2 separate regions of the Homo sapiens genome follow, and region 2 is linked to region 1. The links come from fine-mapping of genetic effects on gene expression. Tissue or cell type: whole blood. Region 1 holds a variant in brackets; the other region holds the start of a gene. All regions are shown on one strand. Distances are from middle to middle.

Region 1 (8,183 bases):
CGCTCAAGGTGAGTGCTTTTGCTGATTTGAAATTTCCTTGCTTAGCACAGTGACTAAAGCACAGATAATGCCCAACAAATATCTGTGGAATAAGTGCAGCATAGGTTGCGTGGTTCACGAGGAAGAGCCCTGTAGTGGCATCATAGGATGCAAATTGTAGCCCAACTTTGTCACAAAATGAATCTGCAGACAAGTTATACAGCTAAAATGTTCACATAAAATCATATAGCAATTGAGGGATTATTATTATGTGGGACAGTTTTATCTCTATTGAATTTACCTAGAGCCGCCTCTCTTTCTCTGTCTCTCTCTCTCTTTCACACACACACACACACACACACACACATCATACCACAAAATACCAGTGAAATGTCTCATGCTTATGACCAGAGTGTGCAGTTAACGTTGGCGCTGTCATCTGAACTTCCCTGGATCTCCATGTCAAAGCCCCGCCCCACTGGTGAGGCGCAGCATGACTCTGTCTCTCTCTTCCCCACCACTGTTACTTACCTGAAGACTTCAAACCCCCAGCCTGCCAAGGCAGTGAAAAGTCTGGGACTCAGGTCTCGAGCTGGGTTCATGGCACAGCCACTGTTCAGTCCCAGGGAGGAAGCAATGACAATAATCAGGAGGCCGATGGCAATGGGCTCTAGGCCTCTGGGGGCTCCCAAGTTTCTGGAGTCAAAGATGGCAAAGACGATTATGAGGAGTATCATGGTGGCCACCACCTGGAGAGGGAGAAGTTGAGCCAGGGCTTTAGCCTGCATTCTGCTCACCTGCATGTCTCAAAATCATCCCTTCTTACTATTTTACAATATTACAATATTACTATTTTACTTATATTACAATATGCCTAGTAATAACTGGCATGTACTGGGTGAATAATTGTGCCAGTCTCTCTTCTTTCTACAGCAATTCTAGAGGAGAAGCCAATATAATTCTCATTTACAGATTGGTTACCCTGCCCACTTAGTAGGTGGCAGTCAGGTTTGGATCCAGAGAGTTTGGCTCCAGAGACTGTTATCTTAATACCACACTATCCTGCTAAGCTACTACTCAGCTAAGTAGAACGGCAAGCTGCAGGCTGGAAAAATGAATGAAAGGCTTGTTCAAATTGGTGAGAAAAGCAATGTGAGATATCAATAGATGAGTGTGCAAAGGAAGTGAACAGAAAATTCAAAAAAGGAAAACAGAATTAGGAAAGCAGTGGTAAAAACTCATTAGTAATAAAATAAATCCAAACAATATCAAATGTTAGGAAAAAGATACCCGTTATTTCAGGCTTTTCTAATAGATCTAAACAAGTACTATGCTTTTAAAAGGAAATTCAGCAATAATTTAGCAATATGCATTCAAAAACATAAATTTATTTATACAATTTGATGCTGCTGGATGTTTGAGAATTACACAATGGAAATAATCTAAAACGTGGAAAAATCATTTTAAAATGTCCACTTTAGCAAAATTTATAGTACTGAAAAACTGGAAGCTTTTACTCTTTTTTTAGTCTACTGTATAGCCATTAAAAACTATAAACATAAAAGCTATGTAGTAATATTTAAAAATACTTATAACATTAAGTGAAAAAAATTTGTATTTTTTTGTTTGTGTTTGTGTTTTGTTTTGTGTTTTATACAGCTGTCCCTTGGTGTCTGTGGGGGATTGGTTCCAGGACTTCCTGCAAGTACCAAAAATCCATGGATGTTCAAGTCCCCAATATAAAATTGTGTATTATTTGTATATAACCTATGCACATCCTCCTGTATACTTTAAATCATCTCTAGATTATTATAATATCTGATATAATGTGAATACGGTATTGTTTAGGGAATAATGACAAGAAAAAAGTCTGTACATGTCCAATACAAATGCAATTTAAAAATATTTTTGATCCATGGTTGGTTGAATCCATGGATGCAGAATTCATGGATATGTAGGGTTGACTCTACTTAAAAACATACGTAAAAGAAAAATTTTAAGACAATAAACAAAAATGATAATAGGTATTTGAATTGGCCAATTATAGCTGGTTTCTATGTTATTAGTTTTCCAAACTACTGTTTTACTTTAACAGTTAAATGATAGCTATTATTTATTGAACATTTATTATGTGCCAGGTACTTCATATGCTTTATCTCATTAAAACTTCACAGTAATGCTGTGAGGTAAATCCTGCTATTATTCTCAGTTTATAGATAAGAAAACTCGAGTAAAACAAGGTTAAGACACTTGTCCAATGTCAAACTTGTAAGCAGAAGAATCAGGATGGGAACCAGGCAACTGATTTTAAAGTTTAAGTTCATTATCATTTCATCTGCTTTCCAAAATAATAATGTTAAAATAATTTTTAATTAATATTAAAAGACACATGTTCCCCCAAGAGCACTCTTCTCTGGAATGCCTTCTCCAACTCTCTCTTGCAGAGTAAAAGCTCCCTCCTCTGGGCTTCCATGACATTCTGACTTTACTTGTATCAGTGTCCCTGTCACTCTGCAAAAGAGTATCTACTTACTTGTTAGATTGAGCCTCAGACTCTGAACTCCTTGAAGAAGGAAGAGTATAGAGCTGTACTTGGCTAAGTAGGTGCCCAGTAAATAGTTATTGGGTAAATAAATGATTGATTATTAACTAAACCAAGGAATATGCTTGAAGAGTATTTACAGCTAAACAATTTAGTAATCTTGAAATAAGGTGACCCCAAAATATGGTCATGATGGCCAAGAGCTCTGTTGGGTGTTGACTGACTGATAATTGGCAATTTTTGGAACTCTCTCCAAAGCCTAAGAATACGGACAGCATTCAGGGTTTGCTGACGGTTACAGCCTCAGGGTTTTCTAATATTCGCTTTTTCTACTTGACTTTATACACAATAATGGGCTTAGAAACCACAGACCTTAGAGAAATTGCCAACTCACTCTGAGACAAGGACACAATGAAGGAAGCTCAGGATATGGTATGCAGGTCAGCATTGATCAAGATACAGCTTTGGGAGGCTTAGGCAGGCGGATTATGAGGTCAGGAGTTCGAGACCAGTCTGGCCAACATGGTGAAACCCCGTCTCTACTAAAAATACAAAAATTAGCCAGGAGTGGTGGCTCACACTGGGAATCCTAGCTACTCCAAAGGCTGAGGCAGGAGAATTGCTTGAACCTGGGAGGTGGAGGTTGCAGTGAGCTGAGATCACGCCACTGCACTCCAGCCTGGGGCAACAGGCTCAGTCTTAAAAAAAAAAAAAAAAAGCTTAGAGAAAAACACCAAAATAACCAAAATTGTCCTCGCTCTTCTATGCTCTCTGCTTCAAATTTCTATTATAATATGGTCGCTATACTCCAGTTTCCTATCTAATTTTCTTCTTTTTTGCCCAGGCTGAGGTGTGGTGGTGTAATCATAGCTCACTGCAGCCTCCAACTCCTGGGTGCAAGCTATCCTCCCACCTCAGCCTCCCAAGTTGCTGGGACTACATGCAAGCACCACCACGCATGGCTAATTTTTGTATTTTTGGTAGAGGCAGGGTTTTGCCATGTTGCCCAGGCTGGTAGTGAACTCCTGGGCTCAAGTGACCTGTCCACCTTGGCCTCCCAAAATGCAGGGAGTAAGATGTGAACCACCGTGCCCAGCTCTGTCTAATTATATCTTATTTTGCATTGTTTCCTTGTTCAATGCTCTTCAACTAGATTCAAAATTTCTGGGCAGATACTGCTTACAATGCGTTTTTCTCATATTATTCTTTTTATCCTCATAAGTAACTTCATGAAGGCTCATATTATCCCCATTTTACAAGTGAATAACTTGCGACCCAAAAAGTTCAGTACTTTGCTGAAGCCACGCAGGAAGTTGGAGGCAGAACAGCTATTTTAATTCAAGCATTCAGACTCTGCATCTTGGATCTTTACAACTCACATTTACTCGTCAGTCTTTCAAGCTCCAGACAAAGGGCCAAGCACATAGTGAGTTTTTAATGAACACTTGTTGCCTGTTTGATTTATTGATGAAAGTGGAAAGTAAAAAAGCTGAGGACATGAGGGCATAGTTTTTCATCCATACATTGAATGGAGGTGGGCATAGCTGATGAACTGGAAGATCCATTTTATACACATGCCCATTCTGATCTGCTCCACTGTATAAGTCCTGATCATAGAGGAAGAACTTAGAGATACTGAAAAATATAGCCTTCCTTCCACTGCCCTGACCAAGATAACCAGCAGCCTTCTTGGGACACAGTAAGGGAAGAAGAGTCTTTTGAGTTGACAATGTTAGTCCTGCCATAAGCTGACCAAATAGGTGTGCTATTGGTTACACCACAGTATGCTTGGGTGCTAGAAGCTTGTTTAAAGGTCAATAAGCAGAGATACTTCTAGCCACCTTGAGAGTTTAAATAAATAAACCTATGCACATGGTGAGACAGAGAGGATTGATGATCCCCTAGGCTCAACTACCACCCTTCACAGTCTTTGATTTGAAATAGAAATATCTTCT[C/T]TTGTGGCCTCCACACTTAGACCACTTGTTCAAAAGAGTCAATAGTGAAGTGAAGTCCATTTGTGTCTACAGGGATTGAAATGTTTAGTCATTCACTCTTTTCTGGATCTCAACTAATGTTAAACAAGTGTACGTATTAAAGAGGAAGGAGAAAACTTTTCTGGTGGTATCAGCTCCTTGTAAAGGTAAAACGATTATCAAGAAAGCTTGGGTTATGCCCAGCAACCTCTGCCTTTGGAAATATAATCTCTCCTTTCTGATTGGTCTCTAATTCTCCAATGCATTCCCCTTATGAGAGCATATCTTTTCACCAAAGTTAAGTCTTTGTTGAATCTACACTTACTTGATCTGCAAATGCGTTCGCCAGAGATAGATACGGAGCTGGGTATGTTGCAAAAATGTGTGCTGTTGCATTTTCTCCCACGATCAGCAGTTTTCCACCAGCAAAGGACATAAGTCCATCTATGAAAGAGAAAGCTCTGGCACATTAGTGTTCCCTGGGAAGAGTTGAAGGAGGCCTGTGCCAAGCCTTGTGCTAAACAACCAGTCACTCAGATTGAGCTTGGCATAGCCATGTCATTTGTCTCTCTCTACTTCCGAGGAATGATAGTTTTAGAGATGCCCAGGTGAATCCCAGGATGGAGGGTCAAAGGAAGAAGGCCTTTGGCCTCTCTGAATGGCCCACTGCAAACTTGGACAAATTATTCTTCGATAGGGTCCTGGGAATGAGTTCTCTTTTGGGGGAATTCTTGGAGTTTTCGAGGTCAACTGTAAGCCAAAGTGGGGCTTGGTCTTGCTCTAGGAATAATTTATAATTCCCAGAGGGCTCTCAGTAACCCCTAATACCACTCCAGAATTTGAGGGTGTTGCAGTATACTGAAGATGCCCTTAGAGCCAGGGGTATTGCAGCCACTGCCACAGCTAGCACTGACCCCAGGCCATTCTTGCCACAGCAGCGGGCTCTGAATTTCCTGTGTGTTCTTGAATTCCATTTTAGCCCTTTTAGACTCTAATTCTCAGAGAGACACTCTATGGGGAAAAGTCCCTTTCCATAACCTATTTCTTTTCCTTTTTTTTTTTCTTTTTTTTCTTCTTTGGAGACAGGGTCTTGCTCTGCTGCCCAGGCTGGAGTGCAATGGCATGATCCTGGCTCACTGCAGCCTTGATCTGGGCTGAAGCAATCCTCTTATCAGCCTCCTGAGTAGCTGGGACTACAGATGTGAGTTACCACACCTGGCTTATTTTTAATTTTTTTTTCTGAAGAGACGAGGTATCCCTATGTTGCCCAGGCTGGTCTTGAACTACTGGGCTCAAACGATCCTCCCACTTATGCCTCCCAAAGTGTTGGGATTACAGGCATGAGCCACCACACACCCAGCCCTCCATGACCCATTTCTATAAGGCCTGGTTCATAAATTCTACTTCCTAAGGTCTTCAGTTTGGGTAAGTCATAATGTATTAAGGCTTACCTTGGGTTAGAAGGAAGGAGCTGCTTTAACAGTTGATTTCATGGGAACACCAAGGTGTTTTAGTTTGAAAGGCCTCGAGAGTCATCTGATTCAATTCCCTCATTTTCCAGAGGAGGAAACTGAGGCTAGTCAGATCAGATGACTTATTTAAGTTGCACAGGTATTTACTGAACAGCTAGAGCTAAAGTCTGGTCTTCTATGACCAATACTGTGTTTTTCCCAAGGACTGTTGCAGAGTGGAAGCCCTGGCTGTTTGATAGAAGGGCAATGAGGCTCCCACCCAGCCCACATCTCTGCTGTGTCTCTTCCTTCAAAGACATCTTCCCAGAGTCCTTCTCTCAATACTTACTGGTCACACCTTTGTCACCAGAAAACACCTCTTTTCCCAGCCAAATCAGAGACAGCAGTGGGGAAGCCACTGGCCTACTGCTTGTTGTATGGATGTGTATGTTGCAGTGCTGGCTTGGCACAAAGACAGGCTTCCTTTAAGTTCTGCTCCCCATTTAAGATATGACCATTTTCATTAACAGGATTCACGAATTTGCTGGAATGGTAATATGGCCTCATTTTCTCAAATTTAGAACTTGCTGTCACTTGTAGAATGCTTCCCGTCCTTGCTTTTTCTCGCCTGTGCCTACCAAGTAATTCTGACTTTCAAATTATGCCCAGCTCTTCCTAACCTTAGGACTCAGGGACTTTACTCACCATAGTAAATGCCAAAGACGGTTGCAGCCCCCACAAAGGCTCCCAAGAACTGGGCTCCCACATAAAATGGCAATTTGAACCATTTCATCCGTCCAAAGAGACACATTGCTAAAGACACAGCTGGGTTGATGTGACCACCTGCAAGGGAAGATTGGAGAAGTGAGAGGGCAGGTTAGGAAGAAGAATATACAGAAAACCATCTAGAGACCTCAGGTGGAATTCAGTCTTCTAGGCAGAGAACTACTGCCTATGAGGAGAAAGAGGGGTGTGTATGCACGTGAAAGAGAGAGTGTGTATCTGAGCAGGGAGAGAAGGAGGAATGATCATTTTCATGGCATCCTTGGATAACAGTTTAGAATGTTTATCTTGATGAAAAGAGAGTCAGGTATAAAAAGAAACTTGATGTGCTCAAGTGGCTGTTTTTTTAATAGGCTTGAATCCCTCTATCTATAAAGCAGTCACCCCAAACAGACTGATGTAGCTATTAACTTCGATATCTTTTAAAAGTCAATATGCTTATCCAATATATGTATAAGATTTAAATCTATATCTAGCAGTTCCTCCGGCCATGCCCAGAGGATATAAAAACAAGCTCAAAAGAGATGTATCTTTAAAGGAAAATGACTGTGGGTTGCTGAGGGTGGGGGCATAGTTGATTTTGAGGTGGTCACAGTGTGAGTGGCTTGTTCTCAGTTCCTCTGCATAAACAATGCATTTCTCTCCTATACAGAAATGTAGCAACCCTTTCCTGAGCCCAGCCCAAGCTCCAGCTAGAGAAATCGGCTTCCTTGACTTGCATCCAGCCATAAAATCAAATAGAGAGTTTGCTCTGTGGTTGGTCTCTAACATCCCCAGCTGGCTTTGCTAGTAACAACAACAGCAGCATTTATCAAATACTTACCAGACACCATTGTAGGGTTAGTAGGTGGATTTGATCCTCTTAAGAACCCAATGAGATGAGTACTACTCCAGTTAACGGATGAGAAAACTGAGGCATGGACGGAAAGTAAGTTTCTTAAGGCTACATGGTCAGTAAATGGAAGAACCAGGATTCAGATTCAGGTTTATCTGAATTCTAGAGCCTGTGTTTTCTGCTATACCACTTCCAGCCCATCTTCACCGTGTTTATAAAGGCTTCTCTGCTTTTGTGGGCAGAAAAATAAATAAAGAATTTAAAAAAATTGTCTGAGCATATAGGCTCACTTCCTAGTGAAAACAGATGTTCATTTGAGGAATACAGATGACATTTTTTGTGGAGGGGGAATCAGAGACACCACATTGAGATGTGGACTTTCAGGCTGTGGCCTTGGTCGTAAACAAAGGAGGGATGATGGTGGTGATGATGATGATGATGATGATGATGATGATGATCCTGCACAGAACCAATAGGTGCACTTGTTTCCAGAAGCCTCTACCACTCCCTGTGGAGAAAGCTATGCTTTTTCCAAGTCTCCAGGGCAAAATGGACTTGCAGTGGGTGGGGGATTCTGGCTGCTGGCTAAGCCACAAGAGTCCTTTCTTCACCTGCCCCTG
Region 2 (8,183 bases), 37 kb after region 1:
CACGACTTGGACAGACAAACCACCCACAGGCAGAATCCAGGGCACTGCTGACAGTAGGGGCTTCTGATCTAGCATCTGTTGGCCAACTGACAGCTCTAGCTCCATGTGACCCTCAGTCCTGGGCACCCTAGACTTGGAGAGATGGATGGTTTTGTAAAATAGCAAGCTAGAAGAACCAAGCATGGAGGAAACAGAGAAAGAATAGGTGGCTGTTGAGCCAGAAAGCAAGACAGAGAAGTTATGGGGTCTCTTGAGGCCCACTTTCCTATAGGTCCTTTGCTCTGAACCAAAAGAGTGGTCTTGAGGAAAAGCTAGAAAACAGAAATACTAGAGGAAAAACACAGTGCAATGCTTGGTCAATGTGTTTATCAGAGCTGAAGACATCACTGAGCCACCTCAGAACCCTGGTGTTACCTGAGGTTTGAATGTGTTTGTAGGTGGTGAAGAGATCCCAAGACTCTGCTAGCAGATCTCCTGTAAAATATCCCCACCACGATCACGTCTGTTCTGTAAAATCATCTTTTGACACTGCTAATGTATTTTAAACTGTAAACTTTGTCAAGTTCGCTTGGGCTTTCACATGAAAGGAGTTAATTCTCATCAAATGATGGTATTAGGGAATGACTGGAGTCAAGATACCAAGCCCAGCTCTTTCATTCAAGGGCTGATAAGTCTCTTAATTGTGTTACACTTGTCTCTCCATCTGGCAAAATGCAGTTGATCGCTCTCCTTTCTCTCTCTTCAGGAAACATTCAAACAGGAACGAGAATTTGGACAAGCGAACACTCTGTGCTGCTCAAGGGAAGAGCACAGTGGAAGTCCAAGGGCGAGTGTGTGCCCAGGGCAGGGCAACTGGGCTCTGGGCTGATTCCCGGGATGCATGATTACATCAGCCTGAGCTCAGCTTCTCCACCAATAAAAAGGGCCAGTGATATCTGCCCACCCTTATCTCAGAGCTCTCCTGCCAGTACCTGGGCATTCCAAATAATGTACTAGACCAAAATTGTCCTGGATTCTGCCCTGCAAAGTGGACGTTTCCTTTAATTTGGCTTATAAACTTTCTGATTTCACTCTAAATCCTGACCATAGATTCTTTTGTCTCAAAAGCTCCCTAAGATAGAATAGACCTACTTCAAGATCTGAACAAACTTTGTAATAATAATTTTAAAGCCCTAGAGTGTCTATAACCAGCATGTCTGATTGAGAATCCTCTCAAAATGGAGAGACAAACTCTGTGACCCCAGCAAGGAGGGATGATTTCTCACCCAGTCCTGGTGGAAGGTAGGAGCAGGAAGAAGGGAACACTGCAGTGTCTGAAATTTCTCACATACAATCAACCATCCCTGTCCTTCCTTCCTCCTTCCTGTACTGCCCACTCCCCTATTTCCTCCATAGTCTGTGTTCCAGGATAGTTTCTTTCTATTTCCTTCAGGGCACTGAAGGTAAAGATCAAGGGTACTACTTTTAGCAGAAGTACTTGCATTTTTTTCCATTCTAAGAGATGCCAAAAGTTAGACCTCTAATGCGGAAGCTTGACAGGGTGAGAAAAGAATTCAGCATCTGTCCGACTACACAGTATGTTATCTACTCAAAAGTCCAGCCCTGGAAAGCTGTCCTTCCACCTCAGGAGGAAATACAGCTGCTTGCTGGGTTGTTCACTTCAGCATCTTCAATAAGATGAGCTCTGTATCAAAGAATCCTGAAAAGTTTGAAGAGAGAGGAGAATATATAGAGTAGTAGGAGTGAGCATAGTCCCTGTGAGAAATGACTAGACATGACTAGAGATTCTCTGAAGTTCAGCCCAAGGAAGAGATCAGCCTTTTGCATTGCAAACTTTCCCCCCACACTAGTAAAGGTGAAAGGCCTACGTATCCCAATGACTAAAAGGCCAAATTAGAGCTAGCTTTTTGGCTTATGACTTAATTGTTGTTGGTTTTAGTTGTAGTTTATAAAGAATTTTTCATGGACCTTCTTTTCTCTTAATGCTACCAGTAGGCCTTATCAGTCCTTTATACCAACTGTTCCCAACCTTTTAGCACCAGGGACCACCTGTACCAGTCCGTGGCCCATGTGTTGGGGACCCGTAATTTATACCATGGTGTTAGATTAGTTTGAGATGCTCCCCATAAGAGCAGTTTTTGAAAGGAGGGAAAAAAAATAGAACCAGACTCCCAAGGTTGGCGGAAAAAAAACAATCTCACATATTTGAAAGACTGAGTCCTTTATATCCTCTGCCATCTTTTCGATGTTCCCCTTCCCTTTGCCTTATCAATGTACAAAGCTTTTTACTAGAAAATACAAGGCAAAATGCACATTCTCTAATAAAGCAGAAAATTACTTTGGATAAACTTTCAGCAAAACCATGTAGATTTCTTGGTTTAAAAAAATTGTGTTTGTGCAGGAACTTTTTGTTTATACATCCCCACAAGCTCCAACAAAACTGAAGATGATAATCAAGGTTGCAGATTTTATTAGGGTTCACTTTAGAAAATAAATGTATAGTATAAATGGAAATTAAATATTTCAGGAAATGACTGGCTTTATCCAGAACATACAAGTTTTAATTTTTCAACAGACAATATCAAGATGTTCTTTATTTAGCCCCTACCTTGCATAGTGGGGAAGACACAAGGCCAGTTGAACAGTGAACTGCTGAAAGCAAATTTCACTTTCAACACAGAAAGCACGGGATTATGAAACAGGTTCTTCTTAAGAAATACAGAGGGTTTTAAACTTTTTGGTTGCAAAAAAAAAAAAAAAAAGATGTGTAGTTCATTTCCTCCTCTGTTTTCTGCAGAGCACTAAGAATTGTAACTGAATTTGCTTCACTTTTCTGACTCACTCGTCACTGTGAGGCTGTAATCACTCTGTATTGACAACTGCTTCTTTGGGGCCAGATTGTCAAGTAACATGACAGAGGGGTCTCAGTCTCACTAAGAAAGATTTTCCAGTAAGCAGTGACCGGGAATCATAAGAATCACTGACTTTCATCTTCTCTCTTTTATTTCTTTTATTTTAGTTAGAAATAACTACTTACATAATGTCTTACTACATAATGTCTTGCTACATTATGACAGTGAGTGTGGTCAGAGCAGCCAGGAATGAATGCCAAGGGAAGATGAGGAGTGCAAGAAATTGTCCGTAACTCCCTGAAAATACTGTAACGAATCTGGTCTAATGTGTTTCTCAGAGACCAGAAAACTTATGACTCTCTCTTCACATTCCACTAGTTCAATTTTTTGAGTTCACATTTGTTTCTCATTCTTGGCTTAGCTGATGCATTCCAAGCTTATTCTTCTAAATTATTATGTATTTGCCCCAAGCAAAGAACTTTTAATGCACAGAGTTTATGGGCTATTCTCTATAACTTTAAGGAAAATGAAATTATTTATACCTGGAGTAGGAAATCCTTAAGCAGGATAAAAAAAACCAGTTGAAATCAATAGTTGCCACATGATAATACATTTCTATTCACAAATGGCCTGGTTCCAGGTAAAACTTCAGGATACAGAGAATGCTAGAACGTGCAGCAAAATGAAAGCCCAGACCACTTAAGTAAACTTTCCAGTCTCTTGTTAATAGCTGAGTAAATCTCTGGGCAATCCTCAAGAGGTTCTTAGAAGTCGTCCCTCGTTTATATCTAGAAGGTTCTTGTAATTGTCTTGTAAATCTCCAAAGATATTTAGAGATTACTTTGCTTTAAATAGAGACCAAAAATGACACAAAACTAAAGCTGGACTATTGCCTGGTACACTATTTCTACCTAGTGCAATTTTTAATTTCTTAAAAATCAAGTGATCTGACAGCACAATACTTGTCAAGTACTTGTCATACTGAGATGTTTCTTGCCATCCATATGTATATTTTTGCCAACTATATTTATTGACTATTGATGCTTATTCCAGGTGGCTGAGTCACCCCAATGCTTGGAGGAAGCAAGCAGGGTACAAATCAATTGATCAATGAAAACACTAACGACTGACTTTTAAATCACAAAGCCATTTTAGAGTATAAGTAAATACCTGAAATAAAGAAGGCACTTCACTCACTCCTTCTCTTCCATTCCCATCAACTTTTGTGGGTAAATGCAATAGGTAATTGAAAACTTAATATCACAACCCCTAAATAGTCAAACAGCCTCTAGTAACTTGTTTCTTCCTGGAAAAGATGAATCTGATCCCAATTAACTTAAATAAAACAAACCAAACAAAACTCTCCACTACCAGCCTGGCAGCTAGGGAGGCATTATTGGGTCTGAATGTAGGAAATCAGGAAATACTTACAATCAAGATGAACGTGCCCAAGAACTCAGAGAGGGTTTCTTTCGCTAAGCTGCTCTTCAAGACCAGTCTCTGCTTGAAGCTTTTTCCCTTTTCTGCTCCCTCAGGCTGCATCTTGGGGCTTCTCTGAGGACTCCTGTTTCTACCAATACCTACCTGTTGTGGTCCTCACTTTCACAGCCAGATGAAAATGGACGTTTTGACAATGGCTCACAGATTCCTGGAGATGTCTGGTAAGAGTCTCTGACTGTACAAATGCCGTTCCAATTAGAGGCTGTGGCTTAATCGTCTTCTGGTGGAACTGTCATTCCCTGTTCGCTGCTATTTGTTTGAATCTGCGACTTAGAACCCGAAATCCCCAAAACAATCCCTTTTGTGCCTGACAGATTAATCATTACCTTTATTCTCAAGGTACTTTTTTCTCTGTTGGTTTTTTTCAAGAGATGAGAAAAGAGATGTGCCAGTTGTGTTGCCAAATCACAGTGACGGGCCCTGGTCCAGAAAAGATTTTCATGTTACACAATTGCAGGCTTCTGATTTTTTTTTCTTCTCATTCAGAAGTGGGTGGTTGGGGTGTAGTTTGGAACTGTCAAATCAGGTGTAGATATATCCAATGTTAACATTCTTTTCTGAAAAAGGTTTTTATGCAAAATGAAGAATTTGAAGAAAATATAGATTTATCATCCTAGAAGATTAATCACTCTTGTTTTCTTCTGGTATCATTTCAGTGGCTTCATGATACCACTCTGAGGTTAGTAAGAACCACATAGGCCATCCTAGAGATGGAGAAATTAACATACAGAGAAACCATTGCAAGCTTCACACTGCAAGTCTGTAGGACAGATGGAGTCACCTCTTCGGTTATGAAACTGGGCTTCACTTGCTGAAGATACTTTAGGATCCAAGAATCAGAAAGATGGAGGAGTCACCTTTTTGGTGACTTCTGAAGTTTCTTCTGAAGAAACATTCCAGTTTGGGTTTCTTCTGAAGAAGCATTCCAGTTTGAAAATAGTCACTCTTCTTCATTCACCATGAAATATTTAGACATAATACATAGGAAATAAACAATAGCAGCTTGAAATTCTTTACTGCATGGAGATGACTGAGCCGGAAAGAGATCAATTAGCGTGTATGTCATTCTAATCAAACGAGAAAGGGAGCCAGTACACCTAACCGAGGCTCCTAGGTTATACCCTTTCAATTTGATAAATTGACATCCTTGCTGGCAAGAAACTGTGTTTGGGAGTAGCTCCTTGTCCTGCCAAATATTCAAGCCTTGTTTTTCAAAACTGGCTTATCTGAAGAAATAGAATATAGCATTAGTTTCTAAATAGCAAGGCAGGCCTAGTTTCTGATTACCAATGTGGACTCATGGAATTAGTATCCATGCTGTGTGGTTCCTTCCAGTCCTCCCACAGGGAAGCCAGCTCTGCATCAGGCCCTCCCCTAGCTTTGCAAAAAGGGAGGGAGGAGAGGACATGGAGAAAGCAGCTGGTGAGAGGCCAAAGGCAGAAGGAGACTTCTCATCTGTAGGTGACATTTAGAATTTAGACTTTAAAAAGTTATAACCTGCCTGAGGCCACACTACTGCAGAACCAGGACAAAACCTCAGCACTTTGGCTTTAATTCCTGATGAAGTTATCATAAATACCATTGTCTAGAAGAGTTACCTATGACCACACCATTACCAAGTCCCAGTGGATGGACCAGAGAAACAGGACTTTCTTACTGTGACTACAGCTAATAACATGCAAGAGCGTTCTCTGGTCTTCCCATTCACTCATCTAACAACTATTTACTGCACACTCATTATGTGCCAAGCACTGCACTTAACAAGAGCACATAGGGTTCTTGTCCTTCACAGAGCCTAGAGTCTAGTGAAGCAGACAGATGTAAGTGAAATAATCCCACACACATAAATACAAAATCACAACTGAGATGTATGCTGCAAAGATGGGGGCCATATTTCCATAAGCAAATATAGCAAAAGGATTTGACTTTGTTGGAGAGATCTCTGATGGCTTCTCCAAGGAAGTCATGTGTGGACTGAGATCAGAAAGAAGCATGGGATTAACTACATGAAGTGGGGAAGAAAGTGCATGTACAAAGTCCTTGGTGGCTTTGGGGGTAAGGGGTAGGGGACAGCATGATGCCTCTCAAAGAATGAGAGAAATTTACTGTGGTTGGCCCCAGAGAGAGTGAAGGAGTACAGCATGCAAAATGAGCCCTGAGGTGTGGGCAAGGGTCAGACCTTACTAGGCCTTGTAAGTGGTAGTTAGGGCTAAAAGTGTAAGTCATTAAGGTGGTTTAAGCAGAAATACGACATGATCAGATTAGAGTTTTGAAAAGATCCTCCGAGCTGTGAGGTGGAGAGGGGATTGGAGGGGGCTTGGAATGGTCATAGGCAGATACATTTGGGGGTATTACAGAATTCCAGAATTGGGTGGTAGTTTGACAGTGGAGAAATGGAGGGATCCAAGAGTTCTTTATATCTTAAAATTGGAAGAATTTCATGGATTAGATGTGGGAGATGAGGAAAAGAGACTGAGAAAAGTTGGTTCCTGAGTTCCTAACTTGCTGGGGAAGGTGCTGCTGAGCCCTGGGAGAGGAAATCCTGGAAGAGGACCAGAAGTGCAGTGGAAGATCATTAATTCTGCTTGTGCAAAACTGAGCCTCAGAGGCTTCTGAGCGATGTAAGTTAGGAAGTGATATGGGTCCAGATGAGGAAGGAATGTCTGTGTGCTCATAGTGGTGATAACTGGAGCCTGGAGTAAAGAGGCTCCCTAGGGAGAGAGTTTGAAGAGAACTGAGAGTTTGATATGGAACATTTCATGCTTAGGTAGAGGAGGATGGAATCTTTATTATTTCTGTTTTACTACCTTCAATTGACAGTCACACTTCTCACCTCCATCACCACGAACAGCTCATCATCAAACATAGCTTACTCATACAAAATATTCACTGAACAAAATGTTCCAGCCACCTAACAAAATGTTCAAAAGCATCTTAAGAAGGTAAGCAATGAATAGTATTCCTCCTTTATTCCATCTGGGAGGGAGCCTTTGTCAAAATACCCTGACTCCAAAGTTCTAACTGGAAGCATGAGGAAGCTTTTAAATTTCATTCACTCAGAAAAAGTTTTCATTGAATATGTACCATGTGTCAGGCACAGCATTAAGCAGTGGGAATTTAAAAATGAAAAAACAAAACCAGATCTCTATTATTAAGGAATTAATAGTCTAAGTGACTAAGATGTCTGAATGAATACACCATAGAGTAGAATAGAGTTGTAAGCAAGATACTGAACCAAAATTTCTGCTGTCACCATAGGAACATCTGAGAGCTAACTCTGCATTTGCCAACATGCAGAGGAAAGAATGAGTATGGTGACTGCTGTCAATGGTTCTAAAGCTGATGAGCTTTCCTGGATGCACTGCCATACTGATTCTCCAGGGCTGGCATATGCTGTTCTTTTATTAATAGTTCCCTTGGCTCTGCCCCTTCCTATCTTCTCTTCTCCCCAACATTCTATTCTGTGTTTATCTACTTTTGCCTTGGGTAACCATCTTTGCCTACACTCACGCAATCCCAAGATAGAAGCCTGGTGTTTATAAGTATAACCGCCTCTCACACCCTGACCTCACTTCCCCTACACCTCCTAATTCTAAATTCCAGTCCCTCAAAGCCTTCCTTTCCACCTAATTATTACCTCATGATTACCCACGTTAATGAAGCGCTTCCCAGCATCTCAGGTTCCATTGACCCAGTGATTTTCTTCTACACCCATGTTGCCAAAGCCCAACTCTGGGTATGCCTAACCATCCATTTTTTTTTTCTCAGACTTTCTCTTCCCTGGCTGCTAAATGTTGCTGAAGAAAATCATAAATGTATTGATTAACGCTA

What was found. PIP is the estimated chance that this variant, and not a neighbour inherited with it, causes the effect.
Region 2: AQP9 starts here. The variant in region 1 is fine-mapped to the expression of AQP9 in whole blood (INTERVAL, PIP 0.95).

Annotation. Positions count from the first base shown.
Region 1 is chr15:58,171,673-58,179,855 of GRCh38, reverse strand. It overlaps AQP9 (aquaporin 9), which reads right to left. Exons shown (of 6, transcript NM_020980.5): 3 at 6,651-6,788; 4 at 4,820-4,938; 5 at 511-728. Among named protein-coding and RNA genes, the nearest start is that of AQP9, 37 kb to the right of the region's middle. The variant C/T (reference allele first, on the strand shown) is at 4,477.
Region 2 is chr15:58,134,777-58,142,959 of GRCh38, reverse strand. It overlaps AQP9 (aquaporin 9), which reads right to left and starts at 4,579. Exons shown (of 6, transcript NM_020980.5): 1 at 4,284-4,579. The coding sequence starts at 4,394.